Homo sapiens: one gene and its partner. The protein of the gene in region 1 purifies or fractionates together with the protein of each later gene. This does not show direct contact. Each region holds a gene or a part of one and is shown on either strand. Other genes may lie near its edges. The genes, in order: PRPSAP1 and IVNS1ABP.

What was found.
Region 2: the proteins of PRPSAP1 (region 1) and IVNS1ABP purify together in Homo sapiens (affinity purification with mass spectrometry; 3 studies listed by BioGRID and IntAct, with this or other methods). This does not show direct contact.

Annotation. Positions count from the first base shown.
Region 1 is NC_000017.11:76,312,268-76,316,179, reverse strand, and holds part of PRPSAP1 (phosphoribosyl pyrophosphate synthase-associated protein 1), read left to right. Parts: intron 1-2,288; coding exon 2,289-2,359; intron 2,360-3,163; coding exon 3,164-3,310; intron 3,311-3,912. UniProt on the Homo sapiens protein: Seems to play a negative regulatory role in 5-phosphoribose 1-diphosphate synthesis.
Region 2 is NC_000001.11:185,315,486-185,319,397, reverse strand, and holds the start of IVNS1ABP (influenza virus NS1A-binding protein), read left to right. Parts: upstream 1-2,154; 5' UTR 2,155-2,445; exon of another isoform or gene 2,446-3,912. UniProt on the Homo sapiens protein: Involved in many cell functions, including pre-mRNA splicing, the aryl hydrocarbon receptor (AHR) pathway, F-actin organization and protein ubiquitination.

The DNA of each region.
Region 1 (3,912 bases):
TTTTTAGACGGAGTCTCACTCTGTTGCCCAGGCTGGTGTGCAGTGGTGCGATCTCAATTCACTGCAACCTTTGCCTCCTGGGTTCAAGCAAGTCTTGTTTCAGTCTCCTGAGTAGCTAGGATTACAGGCGTGTGCCACCATGCCTGGCTAATTTTTATATTTTTAGTAGAGACAGAGTTTCACCATGTTGGCCAGGCTGGTCTTGAACTCCTGACCTCAGGTGATCCGCCTGCCTTGGCCTCTCAAAGGTGGCCTGGCCAACGTGGTGAAACCCCACCTCTGCTAAAAATACAAAAAATTAGCCAGATGTGGTGGCACGTGCCTGTAATCCCAGCTACTTAGGAGGCTGAAGCAGGAGAATCGCTTGAGCCCAGGAGGCAGAGGTTGCAGTGAGCCGAGATCGTGCCACTGCACTCCAGCCTGGGAGACAGAGTGAGACTCTGTCTCAAGAAAAAAAAAAAAAAAAAAAAAAAAAAAAAGCGGATAGGTCAACATAACTGCGTGTTTACATGGTTTAATTTAAAAACAGAATCTCAGGAAGCTGCTCCTAATGTTGGTGGTTTGAAACCCCCCTCCCCCCATTTTAAGTGATTTTATATGCAAAGCCTTCTTGTCTTGCCCAAATTCAAGAAGTTGTCTTTGTTTCTAGGATGTGAAATCAGGAAATATATGTTTGTTGAAATGTATAAAGTAGTGGTGAATTTCAGCTCAACTGATTTGCCAGTATACAGAGAAAAACACCTGTTCTTTGAGATACACAGTGCCTGTTGGGAATCTGCAAAAATTGTTTGTTGGTAGTCACTAAACTCTTGTTACCCTGAATTTTATTCTCTTTCGCTTCCCCCACTACTAGCCTAATAAATATTTCAGAATAATAACAAAGTTTAAAGAAAGAATACTTAGCCTGTTCTTCTGAAGTAGTCTTTGTTTTTCTTCTCTGTTTACTAACCTCCTTTTGAGGATAAAATCTTATTTCCTTTCTTTATCCTGTAGTTTCCTTTGTACACTCATAGCCTTTCTTCAGATGCAGATTTTGCAGTCAGATAAAAGTCTCTACTTTAAGCACCAATTAAATCAGGAAAAGATGATGGGCCTGGAGTTATTGTCTTCAAGTTCCTGATTTTGAGGAAACTCTGATTATGTCAGTAGTGCAGTTATCTGATAGTAAGGTTACACTGTCCAAATAAGGTGACTTTGGAAGAAAATAACATAAAGCCATCTCATGATCTGGCAGCCTTTCGCTGTTTCGCTTTCTGCAGAGCGGCATTCCTTCTGCATGTCTCTGTCAGTCTCTGTGAGAGTGGGGTTTCTATCCACACAGCACTGCGGTGCAGCTTCTCCGTGTTGGCAGAATCTTCCATGCTCTGCTGGTTCGTTGTCTTTCCAGCTGTGCTGTGCAGTGCAATGTGCTGGCTGCTGAGCTCATGAGACACGGCCCGTCTCAACTGAGAAGTGCTGTGCGTATAAAACACACACCAAGTAGAGAAGACTTGATAGGAAAAAAGTGTAAGGCTGGGTGCGGTGGCTCATGCCTATAATCCTAGCACTTTGGGAGGCTGAGGTAGGAGGATTGTTTGCTTCCAGTTTGAAATGAGCCGGGGCAACATAGCAAGATCCCCTCTGAGAAAAAAAAGTGTAAAACATCTCATTAATTTTTATATCAGGTTGGGCGTGGTGGCTCAAGCTTGTAATCCCAGCACTTTGGGAGGCTGAGGCGGGTGGATCACCTGAGGTCAGGAGTTCGAGACCAGCCTGACCAACGTGGAGAAACCCCATCTCTACTAAAAATACAAAACTCAGCTGGGTGTGGTGGCGCATGCCTATAATCCCAGCTACTCGGGAGGCTGAGGCAGAATTGCTTGAACCTGGGAGGCGGAGGTTGCAGTGAGCCAAGATCGCGTCATTGCACTCCAGCCTGGGCAACAAGAGCAAAACTCCGTCTCAAAAAATACATACATACATACATACATACATACATTTTTATATCAGTTACATGTTGAAATTATAATATTTTGGGAATTGCATAAAATAAAATGTATTAATTTCATCTGTTTTTAATGTGGCTACTAGAAAATTCAAAGTAACATGTATGGCATGCCTTCTATTTCTTTTGGCCAATGCTGCTGTTTCTGAGAGATTGCAGGTTCATTGAGGGGGAATTTGCATGGTTTGTTTGTTTTTTGTCTGTATAGTGGTTTTGCCACCATTTCCAGGGAATTAGGTTGTGATTACATTTCTCTAGTGATACATGAATGACTGAGATCTTGTAATTTGTTTTGTTTTGCTAGTGATGATGGCCAAAGAGAAGCCACCGATAACTGTAGTTGGAGATGTTGGAGGCCGCATCGCAATCATCGTGGTATGGTTATATGTCATCCATGTGCAGAGGTGGCACTCCTGGCTCTTGGTCAGTAGGTTGTCCACTCTGGGACTGTATTTCTAGGAACGATGATCCGAATGGATCCATGTATCCTTTCTCACCCAAACTCCCTTGTGCCAAGTGGCAGAAACCTGTATCCAGGTGAACATACATTAAAGTATAACCTACAGATAGGAAATGAGCACAGTACTCCCGTGAGAAAATTCAGCACCTTCACCTTCATCATGTGGATTCTAGGTTCTTTAAACCAGCTCACCTAATCATGCTTGAGCGTTAGGGCCGAAAGATGAACTGAAGATGAGCTGTTCCGTTTTCACAAGTAAGAATGGGTGTCCCCGTGCAGACTCGTTCTGCATGTTGACATACTTTTTTTCCCAGCTCTAAATATCTGCTGGCTAGTGGGTCATGAGTCCTTTGCAGTAGCACACTTTATTTCAGTTTTCTTCTCATGTCACAGTCTATTTGAAAAAAAAATAAATGGAACGCTGGCTATGTGGGATTCACCAGAAACGTGAGACAGGAAAATGAGTGTTGGCAATCCTCAGCTCCAGCCGTAATGTCACAGGTGCTTGACTGCGCCCGCCTCTGACAGACACACAAGGTACTGTCAGGTGCTTCTGTTGCCATTTCTGGATGCTCGTTCTTTGACCCAGGCACACAGCTCTGATTTTCCATCAGAAATCCTCTGAAACTGAGTGCAGAAGAGAGTAGAGTGGTGTGTGCATTGACAGTATGGGCTAGAGGGTGTTTCTTTCCTACCAACTCACTCTGTTCTCCTCCCAGGATGACATTATTGACGATGTGGAGAGTTTTGTTGCTGCCGCGGAGATCCTGAAAGAGAGAGGCGCCTATAAGATCTATGTTATGGCCACCCACGGCATCCTGTCTGCAGAGGCCCCTCGCCTGATTGAGGAGTCCTCCGTAGACGAGGTCAGGCTGCTTCTAAATCTTGAGCCAAGATTTACTGCTGTGTTTTCTGGGAATAATAAAATGATTCAGTCAATACTAAATTGCTTAATCTGTCTATAGCTTTTCTAGCTTTTGCTGGCTAGCAGTTCGTTGGGACAGATACATGTTTAGGAATACAGATAGTCCACGACTTACCATGGTTCAACTTAGAAGTTTTTGACTTTATGATGATGCAAAACCATTGCAATTACGATGTAATGTATAGTATTCGATAAATTACTTGAGACACTTTATTTTAAAATAATCGCTTTTATTATAAAATGAAAGCCTTTGCCCTAGATGATTTTGCCACCTGCAGTCTAATGTAACTGTTCTGGGCATGTTTAAGGTAGGGCTAGGCCAAGTTAATGATGTTTAGTAGGTTAGGCGTATTAAATGCTTTTTTTTTTTTTTGAGATGGAATCTTGCTCTGTTGCCTAGGCTGGGAGTGCAGTGTGGCAATCTCGGCTCACTGCAACCTCTGCCTCCCGGGTTCAAACGATTCTCCTGTCTCAGTCTCCCAAGTAACTGGGATTACACGCGCCGGCCACCAGGCCTAATTTTTGTGTTTTTCTTAGAAACGG
Region 2 (3,912 bases), on another chromosome or scaffold:
TTTAAATTGTGCACCATTCTGAGGAGCACAGTCTGCTCTGTCCCTGCCCAGATTGCCATTAGCCAGTTGCTGTCTGGGTTGTCAGACTGTTGCAGTGTGACAGTGCTTGTGTTCATATAACTATCATTTTATGTAATAATACCCCCCAAATGCAAGAGTAGTGATGTAACATTTTTGGGCCATGGTTGACAAAATCTTGGAAAGTGAAACCAAGGATAAGGGGGACTGCTATATTAAGAGCAAAATCTTACAACATAATGTGTTACTTTAAGAGGTAGAAATTAACCATCAGGTTCCCTGAAAGGCATAAATGGAATGCATAAGTTATGCTATTATTCATAGAGAAGGTAATAAGTAAATTTGAAATTCCATACAAAGCAAAAATACAATGAGTGTGGGCACACTGTAGCTTTAAGAAAAGTGTTGACTGTTTCAGGTCACAAAGACACTATTTAGAGTATAGCAAGTGTGACCATGTGTCCAACAGGCCAGCAGTCATGTGTCTACGCAGAGTGGGCAATTCATACTCTCCCACTGGAAGGATGAAACCCATTGTATTAAAGAGCTTAAAAGTACGTACCCTGATAGTTTCATTTGTAAGAAAAGTAAACATTGCTGTCAGTTATTATCAGCAAGACAAAACAAGAGCACAGTGTCAAATGTCAGTCTTTTTCTCCTTAAGAAAGATATAAAAAATCACTCGAATAGACATCTTAGTTCTTGTTTCCTCCTACAATTAATTGTCCGGGGGCGGGGGGACGGGGTGCGGGCGGGGCGAGGGAGACATACAAGAAATCTGTGAGAAAAAAAGGGGCGGGGGAATAAGTCTCCTTGCCTCAAGATTTTAGAAAAAAAGTTGTAAACCTATTGCAGATGAAGGCTCCCACAATTTATTTTTCCTGCTTCTATAAGCATAAATAGTTAATGATAAAAATGGTAAGAGGCATTGACAAAGAGCTCCTAGAATGTCTACAAATTAAGGTGAGTGATCAAACACAAGGTTAGGCCTAGACAGCTTAAGTGTCCTCCACAAATCAGGATAAGCGTTAACAGGACATTAACCTGGAAGCCTTTACCAAACTCTAATTTGGATATAATTTTACCTCACTAAATCCCTCACCTTCAATCAAAACTCCTTTCCCACGTGCCCTTCAGAGTCCACGAAGTTGCTGCCAGATCCCAGCTTAAATCACGTTTCGCTTTCACAGATCTCCCTCCCGGGCAAGGTGGTGGGGTGGATAATGAAGTTTGGCACCTGGTATAAAGGGCCCCAGTAGGTTAGGATAGGAACTACCACTTCTCAGGTGTGTTTTCTTTTTCCGGAAGAGGGCAAGACCAGTAGAGAACTGACTCAGCGTCTCCGACACGAGGAGAGCTGCACGCAGACAAAACAGACCCGGGGGGTGAAAAGTGGAAGTAAACTGGTGTTTGTGGCACCACTGATTTACACCTTCTCTGACTTCTCCAATATTTTTTTCCCCAAGTGACTCAATCTTCTCACCCAAACCAGGCCAAATGAGGGGTTAGTTGTTCGACTTCTTCTCAGAGTGCCTCTCTTCTTCCTCACACTCTCCACGCCTCCTCTCCGCACCCGCCACTTCCCCCCCGACCCTTAAGTTAAGGGCTCATGCCCAACTAGATCCTAATGTCCACGACGAGCAGCTCCAGTCTAGGGGGGGTTGCCTAGAAGTAGGTCTGACGCCGAGCAATCTAATCTCCCACGTCTGATCTCTCAGGCTATTGTGCCTCGAGGGGAAGTCAGAACAGGTGAGGGCGGCTTGAGGGAACCAGTTCCGGGACAGGCAACGCACAGGGCGGCGAAAGTGAGGGTGCGGGGCAAGGAACGGAGGGAGGGACAAAGGCGCGATAAGAGGAACGAGGGCGCCCCCCGAGCGCCGCCTATCTCCTCAGGATCACCTTGCGCTGACCTAGTTACACCGAGAAGGAAGGAACCCCAGTAGACCAGGGAGGAAGGCGGGGCGGGATGTGGGCGGGGCCGCGGGTGGGGCGGGGCTTAGAGTGGGATCTTTATGGAGCTCGCCTGTGATTTGCAGATGGATTCGAGACGGAAGCGGGCTGGGAGGCGTCGGCGGCGGCAGCGCACGTGGTGACGTGCGAGGGGGTGCGGCGCGAGCGGTCGGCGGCGGCGGAGGCAGTGTCTCCCGGTCGCGCGTGGAGGTCGGTCGCTCAGAGCTGCTGGGCGCAGTTTCTCCGCCTGCTGCTTCGGCGCGGCTGTATCGGCGAGCGAGCGAGTTCCCGCGAGTTCTCGGTGGCGCTCCCCCTTCCTTTCAGTCTCCACGGACTGGCCCCTCGTCCTTCTACTTGACCGCTCCCGTCTTCCGCCGCCTTCTGGCGCTTTCCGTTGGGCCGATTCCCGCCCGCTTCCTCCTGCTTCCCATCGAAGCTCTAGAAATGAATGTTTCCATCTCTTCAGAGATGAACCAGGTAATACGCGCTGGTTCTACGAACGACAGATGAGGGAGACGGCGCGGCTAGAATCCGAGAAGAAGGGATGGCGCCGGCGGATGGGAAGAGGGTGGGAGGCGCGGAAGCGGTGTCCTCATCAGGGGAGGCAGCCCCAAGCGGCCGCCGCCGCCCTCTGGGACGTGAAGCCCGCGCCGCGCTGGGCCCGCGCTCCAGCGCTGCCATGGTTGCCAAGTTGCGTTGGCGGCCGAGAGCGGGCGCCGGTCGCCTCGGAGAGCGCGGAGGCTGGAGCCCCTTTGCTACACTGGCGCGGGTGAGGCAGGCTGGGAGGAACAAGAGTTTTTTGTTCGAAGGGTTTTGGGGGGCCTGGGTTAGGGCGCCGCGGGCGGGGATGACCCGCCGGAAGGAGGGCGCGGGACTCCCCGTTCTTGCTGTCAGGAACGGACGCCTCGCCTCGGGTTTGCCTGGGGTTTGGGATTCTCTTCTGGAAGAGCTCTCGAGACTCGGCTCGTGTGGGCGGGCAGCCAGCCCCGGGCCTGGAGTAGGGTGGCACGGAGTCCCCGATCGCCGTGGGCCGCGGGGTCCTTTGTTCCCGCTCCACGTTGCCCGCTTTTCTTGCCAAGCGCGGGGAGAAGGGGGCGGGAGGAGGGAGGGAGCGGCTGCCCTGACGTGTCGGTACTGAGTGACTGCGGGGCTGGCCAATCCGGGGCGGGGGTGTGCGGGTGCTGGGGGCCTCGCCTCGCAGCCTGCGGAGTGGGCGCCGGCCTGGCTGCGCGAGGAGGAAGGCCTGGGACGCTCTTTCTTTTTTATGAAAGAAATCAGTGGCAAGATTTGCTCTTTTTCCGTCCCTCCACGCTTTTGGTTAAGTGTCTCTGATTATAAGCTCTTGATGATAGGAAGGTATCAGGCTGAGGGTTGAACCTAGGGTAACTTGAACCACTACTTGAGAACTACATTTACTTTTTCCCCCAATAGGTAGTGGACATATCTATTGGTTTGAGACAGCTGACATTTCAAGGAGAAATCAGATGTCCAAAAGGGCGCATTTTTGTGATGGAGCGTGCAGTGATGGAGCGTTAGAACACCTTGGCATCAAGCTGTTCGTTGAGTGTGTCGTGGTCTTCTGTCTACTAATAGATGACAACTCTGGAAGCCTAGTACCACTCTTAACAGATGAATAAGTACAGCATGGACTAGACTGCCACAGGCCATGCTTTCTTTTAATAATTCTAGCACCAGTGATTGATTTAGGAAAAACAAAATACTGATGATTACTTTTAGGCTAAAGCCTGCTGACACTTCTGTCTTAAAGATACTGAAAGAGTAGTTGTATTTGTTAAGTCTGGACGTGAGGTAAACATGGACTTTAGAATTGAATTGAGACTAGTATCATTTAACGCCAGCTGGCAGGCTGCTTATCAAGCTTATAATTTGGTAGCCAGAGGTAAACGGAACTTGAGCCACTGACCAAAGAGAGCCCTGGAATGG